2 separate regions of the Homo sapiens genome follow, and region 1 is linked to region 2. The links come from fine-mapping of genetic effects on gene expression. Tissue or cell type: whole blood. Region 2 holds a variant in brackets; the other region holds the start of a gene. All regions are shown on one strand. Distances are between the middles of the regions.

What was found. PIP is the estimated chance that this variant, and not a neighbour inherited with it, causes the effect.
Region 1: it holds the start of UBE2F, and the variant in region 2 is fine-mapped to the expression of UBE2F in whole blood (TOPMed, PIP 0.96).

Annotation. Positions count from the first base shown.
Region 1 is chr2:237,963,658-237,971,759 of GRCh38, reverse strand. UBE2F (ubiquitin conjugating enzyme E2 F (putative)) reads right to left here and starts at 4,746. Exons shown (of 10, transcript NM_080678.3): 1 at 4,628-4,746. It overlaps UBE2F-SCLY (UBE2F-SCLY readthrough (NMD candidate)), which reads right to left and starts at 4,815. Exons shown (of 19, transcript NR_037904.1): 1 at 4,628-4,815. RefSeq lists a silencer at 4,523-4,702 and cis regulatory regions at 6,219-6,882, 7,209-7,612.
Region 2 is chr2:237,894,082-237,902,183 of GRCh38, reverse strand. The region is part of intron 2 of RAMP1 (receptor activity modifying protein 1); the gene reads right to left. Among named protein-coding and RNA genes, the nearest start is that of RAMP1, 39 kb to the right of the region's middle. RefSeq lists enhancers at 3,022-3,131, 3,212-3,261, 6,313-7,191, 3,229-7,458. The variant T/C (reference allele first, on the strand shown) is at 3,376.

The sequences.
Region 1 (8,102 bases), 70 kb before region 2:
CACTAATTGTAACAAAGTAACTATCCGCTAGACTCTGCCTTCTGTTTCTAACATAAACTGACATTAATCGTCCTCCTTGCCATGGTCAGAGAGGGTCACTGGAACTTCTTTTGACTGAGGACAAATATTTGTCACCAGGGCCAGGTGCCGTGGCTCATGCCTGTAATCCCAACACTTTAGGGGAACGAGACAGGTGGATTATGAGGCCAGGAGACCGAGACCACCCTGGCCAACATGGTGAAACCCCGTCTCTACTAAAATACAAAAAAATTAGCCGGGCGTGGTGGCCCACACCTGTAGTCCCAGCTACTTGGGAGGCTGAGGCAGGAGAATCACTTGAAGCCGGGAGGCAGAGGTTGCAGTGAGCTAAGATTGCACCACTGCACTCCAGCCTGGCAACAGAGTGAGACTCAAAAAAATAAAATAAAATAAAACAAAATAAATTGTCACCAGTTCAATATTTCCATAATTTCCTTTGTTGCTTTCGTATCATTTTATTTCAATACCACTCTGATCGTTTCAACAGAAAATGATCTAAAAATTCCATGTGAAAAGCTTGACCTAAGCACAGAAATTTTAGGTTGAGGCTAAGATCCTGAAAGTCAAATAAGAATACTCCGTTCCTCATTGGCATTTGAAACCATTTTTCACCCAGGTCTCTTACACAGTTTCTCACACCATCTTCTGCATATCCCCTAAATGCTGTCAGATTTTATTTTCTATTGTTTGTACCATGAAAACAGTACAGGCCAGGCATGGTGGCTCATGCCTATAATCCCAGCACTTCGGTAGGCCGAGGCAGGTGGGTCACCTGAGGTCAGGAGTTCTAGACCAGCCTGCCCAACATGGCAAAACCCCATCTCCACTAAAAATACCAAAAAAAATTAGCTCGGCATGGTGGCGGGTGCCTGTAAATCCCAGCTACTCAGGAGGCTGAGGCAGAAGAATAGGTTGAACCCGGGAGGTGGAGGTTGCAGTGATTGTGCCATTGCACTCCAGCCTGGGCAACAAGAGTGAAACCGCATCTCAAAAGATAAAAAAATTTAAAGAATTTTTTCAAAACGAAAACAATACATAGAATACGATCTTCTGAACTGCACAGTCTTTTCCACTAGAGGACACGGACATACACATACCCTAAACCCCTTAAGAAGCACTGGTCTAAAGGTTTCAAAGACAGCTCTGCACTTTCACGGTCATAAGCTCTCAGAATTGCAAAGTTGGAATGGACTTCTCTCACTCCCATTCCATTTTAACATGTGGACCCCAGGACAACAGAGGCCCAGAAGGTAGGCTGCCCAAAGCCACTCAGCTGCTAGAAGCTGTCACCACAGACACACTAGTTTCCCTCTTGTGGATGACAAAAATGTTTTTTGTTTGTTTTTTGAGACAGGTCTTGCTCTGTAGCCCAGGCTGGAGTGCAGTGGCGTGACTTGAGCTCAGTGCAGGCTCAAACTCCCAGGTTCAAGAGATCCTCCCACCTCAGCACCCTCCACCTCCTAAAGCAGCTAGGACTACAGGCAGGCACCATCATGTCCAGCTAATTTTAATTTTTTTTGTAGAGACAGGGTTTCACCATGTTACCCGGGCTGGTCTTGAATTCCTGAGCGGAAGCAATCCACCTGCCTCAGCCTCCCAAAGTGCTGGGACTACAGACGTGAGCCACCATGCCGGGCAGGAAATGTTTTTATCTCGAGTGTGGTCATGGTTTCAGACTGATCAATTACACAATTTAAATATGGGCAATTTAGTGTATTTCAATTACGCCTCAATAAAGTTGACAAAAATGTGAAAATAAACCAACATTAGTTTCTTCATTGTTACGCTACTGTGCCATCTCCTCAGGTGGCCCTCCATAAGAGCACATCTTCACAGCTTCGCCCAGAGCAAAGCAGCTGGGTTCAGCTGATGAAGTTACTTCACAGGCAAATAGTCACAAACACCTGTAGGGGCTTTAGCTACCACAGACAGCAGCACCATCTAGAGCCAAGCTCTCCTGCTTCAGCCCCTACCTGGAATGATCTTGTCAAAAATCCCTCACAAGGATTCCTTGTCATGGAACAGTGTCTCCCTTCCCAGCCAAGTCTGCTGCCCCGTGTGCAGACTCGAGCACATCAGTCCTGCCACATCGTCAGAGTCACCCAATAATGGACCAAGACGTGCATCCATCCATCACCTGGGGGTCAGCTGGACGCACCAGATGCCCTACACAAGGACTACCAGGTCTCTGGCTGACCTTGGGAATGCAAATGAAGCAAAGAGTGAAAAATAAAAGCACAACTGCTTGAACATGAGTTCAGCAGGCAGTAACCTAGGAAAGTCAGAATGAAGAGTCCCACAGAACAGCAAGCACCAGGGCCACATGCAGCTCCCTGAAGGAGGCTCAGGGAAGCCTGGGGAGAGAGATCCTTCATGCACTCAAAGGCCAACCACCAAGAAACTCTTCTGCACCACTACAGCCCGCAGGCTACGCTTAACGCTTTTATACCCCCAATCACGCCACGATGAAGTCTTCTCTGTGGGCAGAAGACGCTCCAACATTCAATTCCACTGAAGAGTCAGATTGCTGGTTTACTATCTTCAAGTCTGTGACTTGCAAGATATAAAAGAATGTAACACTGGTGCTTTGTTTTCCATAGAAAGTAATAAAAAATGTACTTCTCTAACATTCTAAGAAATCTAATATAGTGACCATCTATTTTTCTATCGTGTGTATCATTTTCACACGCCACTTTAAGAATAAACCCAAGGCCTAATTTGGGAATGTTGCCATAGCTGTAAAATTAAATTTAAACCAAAGGATTCTATCAAAAAGTAAGTCTTCAAACTGTCAAGAGGCTAGCTGAATACCTGCAGTTGCTTCAGAATTCTTTTCCTTCTTCAATATGCTTCAACTCTTGAAGATCTGGTTTAAAACAAAACTTCCTCTTTCCTGCAAATTACGCTCTAAGGCAGCATTTCGGTAACAGATCAGCTGTTCTGAACAGCATTCTCAGTTTCTAAATTCCACAAGTTGTAATTGGCCCAGTTAGGTTCCTCCTCTGGGTGGGACCTGCTTTCAGACAGCCCGGAGAAGAGCATCTGGTGTGCAACTTACTAGTGCCATCAAGTGATATTTACTCAGCATCCCTGCAAGCAATGGCAAAACCAGGCCATGTCACTTGTGCAGGGACACCAGGGGCCAGTCAGCTCAAGGTGAGGGGGCTACTTATTTACAATTCCTTCCGAATGGAGACGTCTCAATCCAAGCATAAAGGATGGGACTGCGGGTCACTAGGGGACACTCAACTTCCCCAGCCAAAGGGGCCCCGATCAGGGCACAACAAAGTCCACATCCCACTCTTCTACAGAATGCCAGTGCCCAGGAACCTCCTGCTCGGCACAGGAGTACGCTGGTTGACCGACCATCTTTGGAGCCCAGCCCCTTTTACGTTCAGCAGTAAACCTGCCCCTTCCTGCACTGCCTACTACCTGAAAGGCAGGTATGTCCAGGTGGGGGGTCCTCAAGCCCCACAGCACTAAGCTTGGTGTGATTCTGTCTCTCAATCTCTCTCTCTCTCCCACCTCTATGCTCCCCCTTGCCTTCATCTCACTCCTCAGCCAGGATTCCTCTGCACCAGGCAGGCCAGTTTCCTCTTTGTTCCTTCACAACACCCTGTTCATTTCCAGAAGCTTCTATTCAGTCTGATACCCAGGTCTAGAATGCCCTCCTTCCCTTCACAAACGAATCCTACCCCTTCCTTAAGGGGAAGATTCCTACCTACATCCCAACATCTCCTCCTCCAAGAAGCTTTCTCTGGCTATTCCAACCCATCCTGCCCCCACTTCCAGGCGGTCGGGAATGCAGAGTGGGGGGACCCAATTCTCTCCTGTGACAGATGAGGAAACTGAGCCCAGGGAGGGGAAGGCCACACCCAAGATGACACACCAGCAGAACTAGGTCTGGAACCAAGACTCTGCTGCACTAATTGTTCCAAGATGCCCTTCCTTCCTCGTCTCCTTTGCTGTGGTAAAAATTTTCCAAACTAGCCTGGCCGCCCCCAGTTGTAGGTAAGCGTCCATACTTACTCTTCCCGCTGCAGGTACGAGGACCGGGCGCGAGTTGTCACTCCCCTCACCTCCCCCGCTCCTCACGGCCTAGCGCGACTCCTGCCCCGATCGGGAGTCCAGTCCCGGTTTCTGCGGCCACGTCGGGCCGGTGACCTTGGCCAGGCGCTGGACGCCCCGCTTCCTCCGTACAAGGCAGGCAGCCGATCCCGCGAGTGGGGCGTGAGCGCGGCCAGGTCTGTGCCACGCTCGGCCCAGGGCCTGGTTCACACCAGGTGCTCGGCGCGGGCCGTCCCCCGCCGCCGCCGCCGCGGTCACTCACTGCCGGGCGAGGCCAGCGCCCCGGCCGCCGACGCCGCCTCCGACCCCCGGCTCGCGGCCCGCGGCCCGCGGCCCCTTCCCATTCACGCCGCTCGGCCTCGCGTCCGGGTGCCCGCGCCCGCCAGGCCCCCGGCGTGAGGAACCCGGCGGGCCCGAGGCGGCCCCGCCACCGCCCGCGCCCTCCGCCCGGCCCGCAGGCCAGCCCGTGCACCGGCGGCCGCACCTCGCCCCGCCGCAGAGCCGCACGGTCGCTCCTCACCTGGGCTCCCCGAGACAGGCGAGGCGGGCCCGGCGCCCAACACCATGCCCGGTCCGGGCGGCTGCTGCGAGACGCGGCCCCTCACAGCCGCACCGGCTCCCGGCGGCGGGACCGGAAGTGGCGGGGCGGGGACTCGGCCGCTCTCGCCCGCGGCAGCCGAGACAGCAGCGGGCGCTTTAAAAAAAAAATTCAAAGTCGCGAAAAACTTTATTTGGAACCAGACACGCGAACAGCGGCGTGCGCCGATCGGGACTGGGCTGGGCGACGGGCCTCTCGGACCTCGCTCATTGGCAGAGGGCGCGGCCAGGGGGCGGGCACGGATTTCGCAACCGCCGCTGATTGGCGAGTAGCGTTAGGGGCGGGGATTCCGAGTTGGCTCTGGAGCCCGAGCGCCGGAGGGCTGGGGGTTTTGCACCTGGTTCCAACACGGGTTCACTTCGTGGTCTGCAGGGTTTAGGGGCACGGAGGAGCCCGGGCTATCCTTCCCTGAAGGAGCGGCCTCCGTGGCTGGAGCTCCCGCTGTCCAGCGCCGCACCTGGAGTGCAAAGGACTGGACAGGCCCCCGCAGCCTGCAGTGCAGGCGGTGAGGGAGACCGGGCGGTCAGACACGCAAGCCACGACCAACCCCAAACCGTGTGCTGCGCCCACAGGCCCCACTGTTCTTGTCATGTCCCTTTTATTCCTTCTTTTCTCTCTTAAATGTGTTTAAAGTACCTTAAAAATCCATTTCAACTTGTCCTCTTTTGGGCGCCCAGATTCATCCCGCGCCCATTAGCGTCCTGTGTGATTGACGAGGGGCCGTCCTGGGCGTCAGGCAGGCCCCTGGAGGAGTGGGCCATTAGAAAGATGAGGTTCAGCATGGAAACGGTCAGAAAGAGACAAGGAGTTAGACTTTCATTTCGAAAAACCCCACTGAGAGGTTTCTAACAGTGGAGTGACTATCAGGTTTTCTTCCTAAAGGAGGCTGGCGGGCCCGGTGGCTCACGCCTGTAATCCTAGCACTTTGGGAGGCCAAAGTGGGAGGATCCCATGAGCCCAAGAGTTTAAGACCAGCCTCCTGATGGTGGCAAGACCCCATCGCTACAAAAAAAGAAAAAAAAAATTAGCCGCGTGGTGGCGCGCGCCTGTAGTCCCAGCTACTCAGGAGGCTGGGATGGGAGGATCACCTGAGCCCAGGAGGTTGAGGCTGCAGTGAGCCGTGATCGCACCACTGCACTCCAGCTTGGGTGACAGGGCAGACCCTGTCCCCATAATAATAATAAAGGCTTTGGCTCTAAGTGAGTCGGTGGGAATGGAGTCAGGAAAACTGGTCAAGAACACAACTCAGCCGGGCGCAGTGGCTCAGGCCTGTAATCCCAGCACTTTGGGAGGCCGAGGCAGACAGATCACCTGAGGTCAGGAGTTCAAGACCAGCCTGGCCAACATGGCAAAACCCCATCTCTACTAAAAATACAAAAAAGCCGGGCGTGGTGGTGCGCCCTTGTAATCCCAGCTATTTGGAACGCTGAGGCAGGAGAATTGCTTGAACCCAGGAGGCGGAGGTTGCAGTGAGCTGACACTGCACTCCAGTCTGGGTGACACAGCAAGACTGTTTCCAGAAAAAAAAGAAAAAAGAAAGAACACAACTTGTGTTATTTCTTGTGTTTGGGACCATGTCTCTCCCTTTTTTGCCCGGCTAACTCTCAAGTTTTCCTAAGCTAAGACACCAACTTCTGATAGGCCTCAAAGCCTGGGGGTGGGGTGGGGCAGTGCAGGTGCCCTCTGTGTCTTCCTTGGAGCCCTGCACTTCCCTCTTCCTTATTGTCATGGCCTGTTTCCCTGACTAAGCTCAGCTCCTCAGCCCTCCTCTTCCTTCTTCCTCCAGCGTCACCTCCTGCCACCCCCTTTCCCATCCTGGAACATGCAGGTGATTAAAACACATCTGCTGGATAGAGATTGCATGCGCTGGCGGCATGAGTCCTGGTGAGAGGAGATAAGGGCTTGAAGATTGCAGTGTGTGAAGGTGCAGCCGGAATGGCGTGAGCACTTGTCTTACTCATAAGCGTCACTGTCTGCAGAATGGATTGCACCACACATTGGCCCACGTAGGCCCAAATTCCACCGCTGTGGATGAATGAAGTCATTTCTAGCTCCATTTCATGAGGCTGCCTAATTCTTTCACTAAGACTTATTTAGGACTTCCTAGTTTATTAACTCAATTAATCCAAACAATAACCCCATGAAACAGGTATTATCCCCATTTTATAGATGAGGAAACTGACACAGAAGTTAAGTAGTCTGTTGGCAAAAAAGGTCAAACTGTAAAATATTTGAAGAGATTTTATTCAGAGCCAAATATGAGTGACGAAGGCCTGAGTCACAGCCTCAAGAGGTCCTGAGAACATGTGCCAAGGTGGTTGGATTACAGCTCGATTTTTATAAATTTTAGGGGTGTCAGAGGCGTTTGAACCAGAGCAACTCCATCTTGAGGCTAAGACCTACTGGGCTACATTCCCAGGAGGTTAGGCATTCTAAGTCACAGGATGACATAGAAGGTTGGCACAGGTACAGGTCACAAAGAGCTTGCCGTTAAAAGGATGCCATTAAGAAGCCGGCCAAAACCAAGATAGCGACGAAAGTGTTCTCTGTTCATCCTCACTGTTCATTACGCACTAGTTATAATGTATCTGTTGCTAAAAGACACTCTCACCAGTGCCATGACAGTTTACAAATGTCATGGCAAAGACAGCAAGTTATCCTATGTGATCTAAAAATGGGAGGACCCCTCAGTTCCAGGAATTGCCCAGCCTTTTCCTGGAAAACTCACGAATAATCAACCCCTTGTTTAGCATATAATCAGGAAATGACCATAAAAGTGGCCAACCAGCAGCCCTTGGGGCTGCTCTGCCTACGTAGTAGCCATTCTTTTATTTCCTTACTTCTCTAATATACTTGCTTCACTTTACTCTAATGGATTCCTCTTGAATTCTTTCTTGTTTGAGATCCAATAACCCTCTCTTGGGGTCTGGATCAGGACCCCTTTTTGGTAACAGGGGGACAGAAGTTACAGGCAGACACCAATCAATACATGTACATTAGTTCAGTCTGGAAAGGCAGGATAACTGGAAGCAGGGAAGGGTAGGCAGGAGCTTCTGGATCATAGGTAGATTCAAAGATTTTCTGATTGGCAATTTGGTTGAAATAGTTATTGTCTAACGAACTGGAATGAATAGAAAGGAGTGTCTGGGATAAGATAAGGTGTTGTATAGACAAATGTTCTTATGTAGATGAAGCCTCCTGGTAGCAGGCTTCAGAGAAATAGATGGTAAGTATTTCTTATCAGACCTAAAAAGATGCCAGACTCTTGGTTAATCTCTCCTGGATCAGAAAAAGATCTGGAAAGGGAAATCTACAGAACGTAGATTTTCCCCACAAGAGACAGCTTTGCAAGGCCATTTCAAAATATGTCAAAGAAGGCTGGGCACGGTGGCTCATG
Region 2 (8,102 bases):
GACCCCGGGCCCTTACCAGCCCCCGGAGGAGAGGCATCCCCCGCGAAGTGCTCCTTCTCTCTCGGCCTTGGGCTGCACCTGAGAGTTCCCCATTCTCCCTCCTCCACCTGAAGCCTGGGCTGTTCACTTCTGGCTGTGAACACATGTGACTCAGGGCCCCCATGCCATGCCTATCCCCTGAGTTATCATGGCTCCCCTTTCCCTCAAGGGTGCCCTCCCCTCCTGAGGCCCCATCACTGTGCCCAGGATGGGGCAGAAGTGACTCGTCCTGGTGGATGGGTTATTACAACTTACATACCAGCTTCCACTTTTCTGTAGTGAGTATGTGGGGGCTTGGCATCTATCTACCCCTTCTTCTGCCTCCCCCAGTTTAGTCAGGGGCAGCCATCAAACCCCTCCACCGCCCTCCACTCTGCATGCTGGGCTTAGCTACCACGGGCTCTCCAGGCCACATCCCACACCCTGGCCGCTGCCCAAGCCCACCGTCCACACCTTCCCACCCCTGCTTCACGCCTTCAGTGCTCACCATTACACCTGTCCCAGATTCAGAAGCTTCTGTGTGGGTCACTCAACTGGGTCCCCTCCCTCCTGCTGGCCACATTCTAGCCACAGTGGCCAGTGTTCTGCCTCAGGACCTTTGCACATGCTGTTCCTTTTAACTGGAAAGCTCTTAGCCTCATCTTCACAAGGCCACCCTATGCTCGCCCTTCGCTTAAATGTCACGTCCTCAAAGAGGCCTTTTCTGGATGCTTCAATCATATTTGGCTTCCCCAGCAAAGTGGGGTTTTCCTTCATAGATGGGTGTTACTTTGTGGCTGTCCATGAACTCATGTGATTATTCACCCACTGTTGGTCTCAACAACCAGACTGCAGACACCACCGGGGCAGGGAGGGTAAGAGCAAAAATCCCCCTTACTCTGGTCACAGTGGCCACCTCCAAGGCAAAGTGAAACAAAGCCTGAAGGAAGACAGCGAGAGAGGGATGTACCCAGGAGACGCAGACAGAAGGTGAGCAGGGGTGTGGGCTTCCCAGCAGACCTGGCCCAGGCCGGTGAGAAGGGCCATCAGTGGGGCTGATGGGGATGCTCCACCCAGGACAGCTGGCACTGCGCCACAGCGTACAGACAGCCCGCAGCTGCCAGGAACGCAAGACACGTGGGAGACTTAAACACACCTCCCAAGGCTAGGTAGATAAACAGTAGCATAAAGTGATTATGAAAAATAATGTTAATAAACCGATGCAGTGACTGTCTGATAAAGGTTCTATTCTACAGAGACTCAGCCGGCTTTTCAAAGGCCCCTGGGTCTGTGTTAGGCGGCAAAAAGAGACTCATCAAATCCCCAGAGTATAAATCATAAGTCAATATTCTCAGGCTACAATACTGAAAACTAAAAATTAGTTTTAAAAAAAGGATAAATTTAAAAAAATGGAATTCCTAGAAATGAAAGATCATTTATATAATTTCGAAGTCACAGGAGAATTTAAAAATTCAATTACAAAATATTAAGAGAACAAGATCGGCAATACTATATGTACAAATGAATGGAATGGGGCAAAAGTGAATTCTGAGAAAAATTAATAGTTATAAATTATTTTATTAAACAAAAATAAATGAAAATAAACAAAATAAGTATCCAAAGCAAGATATTTTTTAAAAAGAACAAAATAAATCTCTCCAAATGGCACATAATTTGTCCATCAATAATTATTAGAAGCAATATAGGCCAGGTGCGGTGGCTCACGCCTGTAATACCACCACTTTGGGAGGCCGAGGTGGGCAGATCACTTGAGCTCAGGAGTTCAAGACCAGCCGGGGCAGCATGGCGAAACCCCATCTCTGCTGAAAATATCAAAATTAGCCAGGCATGGTGGCACACACCTGTAGTCCCAGTTAACTTGAGTGGCTGAGGCACGAGAATGCCGTGAACCCAGGAGGCAGAGGTTGCAGTGAGTCGAGATCGTGCCACTGCACTCCAGCCTGGGCGACAGAGCCAGACACTGTCCTAAACAAACAAACAAATAAACAAAAAACAAAAAACAGAAAAGAAAAAGAAGAAGTATAAGAGATTAATACGTAAAAAAGGTTTGTTAAAAATTGGAAAATCCTCAGTGAATTGGGATACTTTTTGGTTAAATTATAAACTATCAAATATCGACTTAAAAAGGAGGAATTCCAAGAAGAAAAATGGCAAATGTTATTAAAGAATTGCTGTTTCAAAAGGCACTAGATCCCAGGCAGTTCTTTCAAATTCTTTTTTTTTCTTTTTAATTGAGACAGGTTCTCACTATGTTGCTCAGGCTGGTCTCAAACTCCTGGGCTCAAGCGATCCTCCCACCTCGGCCTTCCAAAGTGCTGGGATTACAGGTGTGGGAGGCGTGAGCCACTGCAAATTCTTAAAGTGAAAGAAAAAGATGTGCAGCTTCCCAGTTCATTTAAAAAAGTTAACAAACCCTGATCCCAAGCCTCTTGAGATGGCATGACATGCGTCTCAACGCATGCGCACACGGACGGAACAGATGCCCTTCGCTTCCACCTATAAATAGACACTCAAGTCCCCTACCCAATGCTAACAAACTTCATCTAGCCACATAGCATATTTTATTTAAAGGAGGGCTAATTTCAGGAATGCTTTAAACCTGTTACTACAAAATCACACTTTAATACACCATGGGAAAAAAATGTACCGTCATTTTAATACGCATTGAGAAGGCATTTGAGAAAACTCAATATTCTTTTCTGATTTTAAAAAAGCCACAACCTTGAAAACACAGAAAGAAGCTATTTTCTTCATGTGATAAAAATCTCTCTCTCGGCCAGGTGCAGTGGCTCACGCCTGTAATCTCAGCACTTTGGGAGGCCGAGGCGGGCGGGTCACCTGAGGTCAGGAGTTCGCGACCAGCCTGGGCAACACGGTGAAACCCCATCTCTACTAAAATACAAAAAATTAGCTGGGTGTGGCAGCGTGTGCCTGTAGTCCCAGCTACTCAGGAGGCTGAGGCAGGAGAATTGCTTGAACCCGGGAGGCGGAGGTTGCAGCGAGCGGAGATCATGCCACTGCACTCCAGCATGGGTGACAGAGTGTGACCCAGTCTCAAAGAAAAAAAAAAAATCACTGTCTCAAACCAATAGCATGCACCCCATTTAGGACTGGAACACAGTGGCATTTTCGTGGCAGCCAGCAACAGGCTTATTTCGCATTTAGGCAGCCAGGGCTGGCTTCTCCCTTGTGGTTTCTGCCTTTGGTGTCAGGGCTCACACCCAGGATTCTGTGAATAGCGGGACCTTTCCAAAGCAGGGAGGGGCTGGCCACTTACTGCGCCACTTCCTCTGTTGACAGAGAGCCACGCTGTGGCCTGGCCTGGCGTGCGTCAGG[T/C]GTGGAGCAAGCACAGGGCCAGCTTGTCTTTAAGAGGCCTCAGCCCGGGCCCTGGGGATGTGAAAGCCCACGCAGTGTAGCTTCCCACCTACGTCTGCGTGTGTGAGCTCGGGAGCCTGGCTTCCTGTCTCACTTCTGCCCAGCACTGCTGGAGGCAGCAGAGAACTGGGCACCTTTTGTTTTTCTTGACACTGGGGAAATGTATAAGGAAGTCTTGTTAACTGTTTGATGAAAAGCACTTCAGCACACTGTGCTGGCCTGGGAAATGTGTGCTGGGCCAGCAGGCTCTGAGCCAGCTGTGCACACCTGGAACTCCTACGGGTGAGTGGCTGCTCCCATCCCCCTGGGACTGGCAGCACGCGTGAGGGAAAGACGGATATTGTACTATCAAACCCTTCCTAAATCAGGCTGGTCAGAGAGTACAATCAAACTAGGGAAAAGGCCAAGCATTAGAAGTCCTATGTACCTGTGCCAGCCCAGGGATGCCTACACATTTGACCTACTGCATTGCTGAGACAGGAATGCTTTGAAATAAGTGTCATCACTGCATGCAAATGAATATGTTAAACAGGAATTTTCCCCAGGCTCTGACTATGGTTTATCTATTTAAGTTGTATTAACAGGGACTTCTGACATCTTAGCAAAGCCATTTTCCCAACAGCATAAGGGGAAATGCCAACTCCATCCCTTTCCAAAGAATTACAGCATCTGGCCAGGCACAGTGGTTCCCGCCTGCAATCCCAGCACTGTGGGAGGCTGAGGAGGGTGGATCACCTGAGGTCAGGAGTTTGAGACCAGCCTGGCCAACATGGTGAAACCCAGTCTCTACTAAAAATACAAAAATTAGCTGGGCGTGGTGGTGCACGCCTGTGGTCCCATCTACTCAGGAGGCTGAGGCAGGAGAATGGCTTGAACTCGGGAGGTGGAGGTTGCAGTGAGCTGAGGTTGCACCACTGCACTCCAGCCTGGGAGAAAGAGCGAGACCCCATCTCAAAAAACAAACAAACAAACAAAAAACAAAACCCCCCCCCAAAAAACCAAAACAAACAAAAAAAGAAGAATGACAGCATCCACGAGAGCATGTGTTTCTGAGGTTTCCACTAAGACACGTGGATCTGTAAACAAGAAGCCTCACCATAGGCTTCTTGCAAATACTTCGCCAAATCATGGAAGCCAATTCCATTCCACACCTTTGTTACCAGCTAAATATTGCACTTTACCACTGACTAGGTGCTTGCTGAACAAGGAGGACAAAGGCCTCTCTCTTGCAGGAAAAGGAACAACATGAATAACGCACCAAAGAAAGAATCTTGGGAGGGTTCAAGGAAACAGGAGGAAGACAGATGAAACGGGGCTCAGTGTTCTCGCTGCTGTGGAGGAGGCCACAATTCCTCCTGCAACACTCGCAGTGACTGTAGAGCATGCTGATGAAGCCGGAGAAAATGGCCAGCCCTCTCTGCACGTTGAGCAGGGAAGGCAGACACGGGACCACCTGTGGCCTTATTCTCACCTCCCCTCGCTCATGGCCTGTCTGGGCCTCAGGCTCTGTCCTGTCCCATGTCATCTGCTCTTTCAGTCTCCCTCTTTCCTGGCCTGAAGTGAAGCTGGTTCTCCCATTCCTGGGATGGAGGCTGAGGCCCAGGCGGGGCCCGTGGTTGCATGCGGGGCTCTGGGGTCCACCTGGACGGATGCACACCTCATGATAGCTGAGTGCCACACGGGAGCATCCGGTGAGCTGCAGGCATGTAAAAGAGGGACCCACTGAGGCTGGGGCAGGTGACCCCACCATCCCCACGGACAGCACATCACACCCCCAGGACATTTAAAGGCCTGGCCCCTCTGCTGTCCAAAAGTCTAAGAGGCTGGGTGCAGTGGCTCACGCCTGCAACCCCAGCACTTTGAGAGGCCAAAACAGGAGGATCGCTTGAGCCCAGGAGTTCCAGACCAGTCTGGGCAACACAGAGAGACTCCCCCATCTCTACACAAAGTTTAAAAGTTAGCCAGGAGTGGTGGTGTGTGCCTATAGTCCTGGCTACTTGGGAGGCTGAGTCAAGAGGGTTGCTTGAGTCCAGGAAGTCAAGTCTGCAGTGAGCTAAGATCATGCAACTGCATTCCAATCTAGGCGGCAGAGTGAGACCCTGCCTTAAAACAAAACAAAACAAAGTCTAAGAAAATACTAAGACCTGTTTCCCCGCGTGAGTGTGCTTCTCACATCACCCGAGGGCAGGTGTTCTTACCCCCTCCTTACAGAAAAGGGCGCTTGCTGAGGTGATGGGGAGGTCCCTGAGGCGGCAGTGCAGACTGGGGAACGGTCCAGGGGTCTGCCTGGGGGCTGCTTGGCCCTCCCTGGGCCTGGCTTCCTCTGCCTCCCTCCCCTTCTCCTGCTATGGTGGCCCCAGGCCGGGGAGGAATCTGGGCGCCTCTGCCCATGCTGGGAGAAGCGAGAGGTTTCTAAATCCATCCCTGGCTCCATGTGCAGCCAGGTCTGGCACCAGACACAGCCTGGGAGCTGCCAAGTCAGGCTCCCCACAGAGCAGCCACAGCAGGCGGGCGGACGGGCATAATACCTCCTCTGAGAACAGGCCTGGGCAGCGCCCTGGCTCCTGGGGCTGCCAAATGAAGTGCAGTTTTAAAATGCAGTGGGTGTCCCAGGCAAAGTCACAGACTGTCCTATGCTGGCTGCATCTGGGCCTGAGCAGGGGTTGCATTGCGTCCCAGGGTCCGAGGATCAGGGAATGCTGGGAGATCGCTGAGCTGTGCCCATTGTGGGCCGGGTGCTGAGGGCTCACTACAACCCCTGGGAGGTGTCCTGGCACCCCTGTGGGGACACCCAGGTCTAGCTGCCCAGCTGTGTGTGATGGGGCTGAGACCACACTCAGGCCTGTCCAGGCCCCAGGGTTCCCACCTCACGGGGACATGGGTGTGACATGTGTCCGAGTCTCAGGATTAAGCATGACAGCCGGCAAGCTATATTTGGATGCTAACACCCTGGGGGCATTGTCCTTGTGAAGCAACGCTGGCCTGGAGGCTGGACGGGCTCTGCCTTCCTATCCACCCCTGGTCTCAGCCCCAGCCAGCCGGCCCAAAGCATACTCACCCTCTCTGTACAAGAAACTCTCCCCCGATGCCACTAGACTCTTCAGGGACCCCTGCCGGGCTTCACGAGCCTTCAGCGACCCATCCTGCCCACCCACGGGGCGCCCTGCACCATGCTGGTCCCTGTTCGGGCATCCCACCAACTGGCCGCCTCCATCGGGGTAGCAGCCTTGCCACCCCTGCCCTCCTGCCACAATCTCACCTCGTTTGGAGCTCAGGGCAACACTGAGTGTGGGGAAAGGCCAGGCCAGGAAACATCCCAACGTGGGGTGTTCACTGTGGGGGTTTTGAGGAGTTGGCAGTTACGGAGCCTCGGTGTTTTCACCTTTAAAATGGGTTCAGTGATCCCTGGCTCACAGCAGCAGCGTGGTGAGAACTCCCTCAGAGGGCCACCACCATGCCATTCTCTGATGGGAGCCCATGACCCCCCCACAGGACCCCTTTGCACAGCAGGGGGTGGGCATGTGACTCGCGCTGCCCTGCCTTTGGATGGGAGCCCCACACAGGCAGGCAACACGTGGCCTCCTGTCTCGCTCCTGACTCGCTCTACAATCGCCACCATAGGGCTGACCTCAAGGGAGGGTGAGGGGCTCCAGAGGCCATGGTGCTGGGGGGCCGTGGCTCCAGGAGGGAGGGGGAGGTCCTGCCCTGCTGGGCCCTTGGTGGCTGGCACCATTGGCTAGGTGCCTGCTAAGTGCTCAGCAAATGGCTGCTGAGCTGAATCAGGTATCTGGATTCTGAAGGGTACCCTGCTACCAAGGTGCCTTCACCTAACTTGTCGAAGGAGAACCACAACCAGATAGGAGTAGGAACAGGCCACTCCTGTTCCCCAGGGCTGGCAACGCTTTGTCTCACCTCCTATGAACACGTGTCCCTTTGTTCCGTCTTTGAACGTGTTTGTGCACCACGGGGAGCCACATTCACCCGAGCAAGGGAGAAGGTTCCAGCCGTCCAGGGGCCTCTCCACAGTTCAAAAGCCACCTGGACAGCCTGGGCCTTGGAACTGCCACAGTGCACCAGGAGGATGAAGGTGCCAATAAATAAGTGTGGTGGGGACCCATAGAGCCTCAGCCCCGCCTGGCTTCTGGGATGGAGGGGTGGCAGGGGGGTCTCACCCCCTAGCCAGGTCCATCTGGGGCGGGGGATTCAGGCGCTGGTGCTGCCTGTCAGCAACATTCCCTGGTGGTCCTGGCTGCCCCAGGTCTGAGGACGTATGGCCTGCGGCTGCCCAAAGGGCCCTTCCACAGCCAGCCTCGCCCTGGCCTAGCTCCCACCCCAGCACTGCCCCCGGCTCCTCCTGCCTCCTTCCCACAATGGCAGAAATCTGGCCTCCCTGTAAAGAGGTGAGTTAATGTGTCCATTAGGCTTGGGGATAAAGGAAACTTTAATTCACTGCAGTATAATTAGTTTCAATTACAATATCCTAATTAAAAACTACTTTAGGCCGGGTGAAGTGGCTCACGCCTGTAATCCCAAGACTTTGGAGGGCCAAGGTGGGCTGATCACTTGAGGTCAGGAGTTCAAGACCAGCCTGGGCAACATGGCGAAATCCTGTCTCTACTAAAAATACACAAAATTAGCTGGGCATCATGGCATGCACCTGTAGTCCCAGCTTCTAGGGAGGCTGAGGC